2 linked regions of the Homo sapiens genome follow. The protein of the gene in region 1 purifies or fractionates together with the protein of each later gene. This does not show direct contact. Each region holds a gene or a part of one and is shown on either strand. Other genes may lie near its edges.

What was found.
Region 2: the proteins of NTMT1 (region 1) and METTL13 fractionate together in Homo sapiens (co-fractionation; one large-scale study listed by BioGRID). This does not show direct contact.

Annotation. Positions count from the first base shown.
Region 1 is NC_000009.12:129,629,163-129,632,662, forward strand, and holds part of NTMT1 (N-terminal Xaa-Pro-Lys N-methyltransferase 1), read left to right. Parts: intron 1-3,487; 5' UTR 3,488-3,500. UniProt on the Homo sapiens protein: Distributive alpha-N-methyltransferase that methylates the N-terminus of target proteins containing the N-terminal motif [Ala/Gly/Pro/Ser]-Pro-Lys when the initiator Met is cleaved.
Region 2 is NC_000001.11:171,784,660-171,788,159, forward strand, and holds part of METTL13 (eEF1A lysine and N-terminal methyltransferase), read left to right. Parts: intron 1-1,219; coding exon 1,220-1,419; intron 1,420-3,075; coding exon 3,076-3,271; intron 3,272-3,500. UniProt on the Homo sapiens protein: Dual methyltransferase that catalyzes methylation of elongation factor 1-alpha (EEF1A1 and EEF1A2) at two different positions, and is therefore involved in the regulation of mRNA translation.

The sequences.
Region 1 (3,500 bases):
CCGTCCTCTCTTGAGTGACTGATGGAGGGCTGTGACATGGTTGCTCCGGTACCTGCTGGCAGAGGGGCAGGCAGCCCACCTAACCTGGTCCTTACGCCATCAGACCATAGCAGCCACCAAACCCAGCTACATGGTGACATTCAGATTGGTGGCCCTTTTTCCTGTCAGCTACCCGGGCACATCTAGCAGTCTTGAGGATTGGCAGGTCTGGTGGGAAGAAGAATTCATTCTTCTTCTTCTTTTTTTGACACAATGTCTCACTCTGTTGCCCAGGCTGGAATGCAGAGGCAGGATCATGGCTCACTGCAGCCTTGACCTCCCAGGCTCAAGTGATCCTCCCACCTCAGTCTCCCTAGTAGCTACTAGAATGTGTGTATTTTTGACAGAGATGGGGTTTCTGAGCCGTGGGCTTCTTTCTCCTTCCGGCAGTGTTGTTCCCAGTGCTGGGACACCAGTGTGGGAGCTTTGTGGTCAGCTTGCGGGGAGGGTGTTATGTGCAATATTTAGAACTAAGGTCCTCCCCAGCCTGTTACCCCAAAGGGCTCCCTGATTGGTGAAGTGACTGCTGCCTTTCTTCATTGTGGCTGAAACCCTTGTGCGTGAACAGTAAAGTGAGGGGTCAGTCTGCGAGCGGATTCAAGAATCTGAAGAGGGAAGCCAGGTGCAGTGGCGTGCGCCTGTAATCTCAGCTACTTGGGAGGCTGAGCAGGGAGGATGGCTTGAGCCCAGGAGTTTGGGGCCAGCCTGGGCCACATAGTAAGACCCCATCTCAAAAAAACAAGAATCTGAAGAGAAGTTTAAGCAGGCTTCTCTCTAGGCACAGCCAAAGGATTCTGCTAAGGGTGAGAAGACCCAATCACGGATCTAAGAAGAACCCCGTTGCATCTGTTAGAAGTATTCTTGAGCTGGCTGGGCGGGGTGGGCCTACTGCTTCTGGAAAGTTCCTTCTCTTTCAGGACAGGTTCAGAATATAGTAGTGCAGAATATAGTTCTGGGGCCAGTAACAAATTTGACCAATGAAAAATCTTGGCTGGGTGCAGTGGTTTCTGCCTGTAATCCCAACACCTTGGGAGGCTGAGGCAGGTGGATTGCTTGCAGCCAGGTGTTTGAGACCAGCCTGGGCAACGTGGCAAAACTCCATATCTACAGAAAATACAAAAGTTAGCCAGGTGTGGCGGTATGTGCCTGCAGTCCCAGCTACCCTGGAGGCTGAGATGGGAGGATCACCTGAGCTGTACTCAAGTCTGGCGACAGTGAGACCCTTTCTAAAAAAAAAGAAGAAAAAATTCTCCAGCTTGTCTTGTGTTTAGTTTCCCTTCTCTTTCCTCATAGTTGCTTCCCAAAGGCCTCGTGCTCCTTCTCAGGGCATTTTCCCGTTTCCCTCTGACCACTTCTCTTGAAGCCCCTAGAGTGTTCCTGGGTCTTAAGCTTTGAGTTGTGTTTGAGGACTGTACCCGAGTTCCATATGTGGACTCTTCCGTGTTGACCCTGTAGCTCCAGGAGTCAGGCAGACGGTCTTGGACCTACGATTTGTCAACTTTGGCGACAGGCATTTGCTAGAAGCCCCCTGCTCTCCTCGTGTGGAGGCAGCACGTGCGAGGCGGTGAGCTGCAGCTCCCAGTCAGCTGCGCGTTTTCCACCGAGGGTATTTTCCCTTTACCATGGGTTTATCAGGATGTAGCAGCTGCTGCTGCTGGGATTCCTACCACCCACTGTTGCTGTGTGTCCTCAGCACGGCCACTGCCATTCTCACTCTGCCTCCTTTAGGTTAGGCCTTGGCAGTGTGGGAAACACATCAGCCGAGAGTTGGTGCCCAGCATGCACTCGAGGCCACCCTCATCCAGGCCCCGTCTGCCTTTCCGAGCTCACCTTCCACAGTCTTCCCCCGCTCCACTCTCCGCCCTCTGATGGCCCATGCTGTCCCACGGCTGCTCCCTCTGTCTGCCCCACCCCCTCCAGCACTCCCTGTGCTTGGCTGCCCAGCTCGGGCTGCCTCCTCCAGGCGGCTGCCCCTATCTGCTGTTGGGAGGAGATTCCTCTGCCCTTTGAGTGTCCTCGACACTTTGTGGGTCCATGAGAATCCTTATTTTTCTGCTGTGTATTTTCTTTCCCTTTGTTCTTTGTCCTCCTGGACTAGAGCTCTCTGAGGTCTTGGCAAGCCTCACAGCAACTAGAACAGCCCCTAAGCGTGGTGTGCCTTGGTGACAGCACTGTGCCTTGGGAAGCTTATGGCAGAATGGCCACCCGTGGAGCACGGAGCCGCCCAACTGTCATCGCTGTCCTGAAGGGTGAGGTGGGCCTGGGCTCTGCTGCCAGGACCCAGCTGAGGCTTTCTAGTTCTCTCTCCTTCTACCGTGGCAACCGTCTCCTCATCCCCCTGCCATCTCCACCGCCGCCAGCAGTCTTCAGAAGCATCGGTCTTCCCGGGCCACTCTCTGTTGGGCCTCAGGGTGGTTGACTCATTGCTCTGTAGGATGCAGTCGAAACTGCTAGAGTTGACTGTGAGACCAGGAACTGGCAGCCGCGAGGGCTGTCTGTCCTTCCCTCCAGGAGCAGTGCCGTCGCCCTCCACCTACTGCGCTTATTCTTGCCCATCCATCGGTTTCAGCTTACGCGTCCCCTCCTCAGGGATGCCTTCCCTGGTCCCCGCACCCGACTCCACTTCCTCCCTCCGTGCTCTGCTGGCACTGGCGCTTCTCCTCTGCAGCCCTCCCTGCAGGTGTGGTTGTGTCTGTAGAATTGTTTTCTGCCTGGCTGGCTGCCTGGTTCACAGCCCGGTGCCTGGCACAGAGTCCCCACTCCTTGTTAACGGAGGACTGGACCCCACCGTGAGTTGTTGCTGTGCTCTGAGCCAGAGGAAGGGAGGCGTGGAAGCTTCCCTGGCCCTCCAGGGTCTGCTGGTGCTCTCGGCTTTGCGGTCGTTTCTCTTTATTGATCAGGGTTTTCTGTGCCCTGAAGCCACTGAGTCAGGTGTCATATAGAGCATATCAAGAACTTGAAGCCAGGCCAGGCACATGGGCTCACACCCGTAATCCCAGCACTTTGGGAGGCCAAGGTGGGAGAATCTCTTGAGGTCAGGACTTCAAGACCAACCTTTGTAACATAGTGAGACCCCATCTCTACAAAAAATAATTAGCCAGGCATGGTGGCACACAACTGTAGTCCTAGCTGCTCCGGAGGGTGAGGTGGGAGGGTCTCTTGAGCTCGGGAGTTGGAGGCTGCATTGAGCTATGATCACACCACTGCACTCCAGAAAAAATAAAAATGTAAAAGAACTTGAAGCCAGGACTTGGGGCGGGTGCTCTGAGTGCAAAAGACAGAAGATGCTGTTATCCAAGGGGTAGAAGCAGATTTGGGGACCCTGGACTTCTCTCTGCACTCAGCAGGATGTGTGACTTGTGAAGCCTGGTGTGAGACTGGCCCTCTGCCCTGGGGGCCTTTCTGCCAGGTCCCTGGCCCGCTGACTCACGCCCCCTTCCTTACCCAGGAGAGTCGCGGTT
Region 2 (3,500 bases), on another chromosome or scaffold:
GGCATGATGAAAGGAGAGTAATAGCTCTCTAGCAACCTACTTGGAGTTGAGACCTATTCCTTTTCATCTGCCATTGCAAAGGCTTGATGAAGTGTGAGAATGGGGTTGGTAGGGAAGAGAGAGAATAGAGATAAATTTAGGAGGTCACATATGATATAGAGATGCTAGTTACTTTGTAGCATGGAGTAATGGAAGTAATGCTGGACTAGCAAGTCTAAGACATAGGTTCTAGTCCCAGCTGTAGCCTGTGAGCTGCAGGACCTGGGGAAGTTGCTGTGCTTCTCTGCAAAATTTGGAGAGGCAGCATAGGGTAGCAGCTAAAAAAGTGAGCTCTGGAACCAGACTGTTTGGGTTTCAGTTTTGGCTCAGTCATTTCCTGATGGTGTGACATTAGACAGGTTACTTTTCTTTCTCTGCCTTGATGGGATTGTAACTCTGGTGTAGTTGTGAGAAGTATAAAAGCTCTTAGAAATGGTACCTGGCCTTGGAAGTGCTGTGTAAATGTTAGCCATTATTACTGAAAGCAGTAAGTTATATCAGATTTATCTTAATAAGGATAAAAAAGATAGTAGGAGGAAGTGCTTTCAAAAGTGGAACATTGTAGACAAATGCAAAGTGTTTATGGTCTTGGTGTTACGGTAATTTGTTTCCTGGTGACTGAGCTAGTTTTTCAAGTATTCTATAATTCTGTCTGTCCATGTGTGGAAATAAATAGTGCAGTGAATACAAGCGTGGGTAGAGTCTGGGGCTAGACTGCCTGGGTTTGAGTCCCAGCTTCACCATTTACTTATTGTGCGAAGTTGGGCAAATAGTGTAACTTCTGTTTCTCAGTTTCCTCATATGTAAAAATGGGAATAATACTACTACCTGCATCTTGGACTGTTGGAGGATTCCATTAATATATATTTGTCAACAGCTTGGAGTCATGCCTGGCATGGCTTATTTGTGTTGGCATTACTGCTGTTTTTCTTGTGGTAGGTGTCTGCCTCCTTCCCCTACGGACATGCCCACACTTCTTCTCCACCCTTGGTCCTGCCTTATGTCTGATGGGCTGCTTTGCCCTAGATGTTGTGAACTAGAGAATTGTTAGCTCCTCAGTGGGTCACAGTTGGGGAAGATGCTGGTCTTGGACAGGGACTGGCTCCCTGCCGTTTGGGCCATATTGGTTGTGGGCTTGATCACTTTCCAGGACTCCCTGTAACCAAGTTCTTTTTTCTAGTCCCTCAGGGCCGGGAGACCGAGTGGCTCTTTGGCATGGATGAGGGCCGGAAACAGCTGGCGGCCAGTGCTGGCTTCAGGAGGTTGATTACAGTGGCCCTTCACCGAGGTCAGCAGTATGAAAGCATGGACCACATCCAAGCTGAGCTGTCGGCTAGAGTCATGGAGCTGGCCCCAGCTGGGATGCCCACCCAGCAGCAGGTAACAAAGCTTTCGTACGGCTTTCATGGGTCTCTGAAGTCATGTTAGCAGCCAGGGAGGCAGAGGGAGCCTTGGCAGGAGCTAGGACTAGAGTCTGTGACTCTTCATCTAATCCTGGAGGGGTATCAGCAGCTAAGGGTTAAATGGCAGGGAAACTGTCCTTTGCCCCAGGCAATGAGAGGAAAGTGAGCACAGTAGCGTCTGTGTCTGGGGGAGCCTCTCAGAGTCCATAGACATGGCAGGATGGAAATGCTCTACTCATTGCGGGCTTCAGTTCTTCCTAATTTGAGTTGCTCTGACTGTGGATTTCTCCTTCCACACTGGACTTTCTTGGTCATTTTGCTTCTTAGAACTATCATTATCTGAGGGTATAAATGGAAGAGGGCCAAAACAGCTCAGCACAGTTATCCAGGTATTCACATTGCTGGTCAGGTGTTTTACTGGGAAGGAAACCGAAGGTTTTTGCCTAAGTGGTGATATGGTATTATCAGTTAACACCAACTGTCTTGTGCTATCCTGGTCACCATGGGTAACGAACAAGTGATTTTACTAAAAGAACTTCATGATGAGGAGTTGATCCTTTTTTTTCTTTTTTGAGATAGGGTCTTGCTCTGTTGCCCAGGCTGGACTGGAGTTCAGTGGTGTGATCACGGCTCACTGCAGCCTCAGCCTCAACCTCCTGGGTTCAAACCATCCTCCCACCTCAGCCTTTGGTAGTAGCTGGGACTATAGGTGCAAGCCACCATACCTGGCTAGTTTTTTTTTTACATTTTTTGTAGAGACAGGGTCTCCCTATGTTGCCCAAGCTTTGATCCTTCTTGATAGGTGGGAAAGCAAAGGTATCTAGAGGCTTGGTGCAAATAGTAACAGATCTGAAAAAAAAGAACCCAGGCTCCTGGGTTCCTGGCCTGTGGTTTTGCCCACTAGGCTGACTCGTGTTTACAGATGAATGTAAGTTTGATTCTTCCTGGCCAACTTTGGGGTTGATGACCCCTATTTCAAGGAAGCCCAGATCCTCTGAGGAGCTTCATTTGTGGCCTCTCACCAGTGCCTGAGTCTGCAGGGTCAGGAGATATTGGTGATTATTAACTAGTCTTATAGGTCTTTAAAAAAAGAAATAAAGATAGGGGGAAGGAGTGGGAAAGTTTAGGGGGAAAGTATATTTTTCTCCTAAGGTTCAGAAAAGTGGGGGAAAAATAGATGAGAATAATCAGGGGAAAGGAATATCTCTCTAGATTTGGAGTGGTTGTTTCTCCCATGGATTTTGTTATCTTTATTCTTGTGTAGATTCCTTCTCATAATCACAGCCCCTTCCTGAGGGTTCCCTCTAGCTTTTGTTATCCTGGACTATTGAGAGTTCTTTTAGGGGTTACTGATGAGAAAAACCCCTAAAAGAACTTGGGGAGAATCAGCTGCATCTCACTAGTTGTTTGGGAGATCTTTATGTGTCCAGTTGATTTTCAAAAGATGAATTAAACCTTTGAGATCAGTTCAAAGGCTCCAGAAAAGTACTTTAATAGAATGGCAAATCTGTGGAGTAGTTGTTGTCTAGAACCGTGGTATGGGGATATATACACACAAAAGGGAAGGGGTTATAATTTCTCTTATTTCTTAAATGAGCTGCTGTTTTGACCACATCTCTGGTTGTACCTTCAGGTCCCCTTTCTGTCTGTGGGTGGGGACATTGGGGTCCGGACCGTTCAGCACCAAGACTGCAGCCCCTTGAGCGGTGACTATGTCATTGAGGATGTGCAAGGGGATGACAAGCGATACTTCCGTCGACTGATCTTCCTCAGCAACAGGAATGTGGTGCAGTCCGAAGCCAGGTTGCTGAAGGATGTGTCTCACAAAGGTGAGGTGTCATAGGCACAGTGGTGGGACCCAAGTGGCCGTGGCATGGACTAGATTTCTTGGGAGCTTGGCCGAGATGTAGGATGGACCTGGGTGTCTGTAGGTTCTTAACCATCTGGACTCTTAGGGTGTGAATAGCTATAAGCAGAGTACATTCTGTTCTTGAGCAGAGCCTGGCTCTGAAGTGATAGGGGACGTGAGTAGTGAAACCAAATACAGTGATAATCACA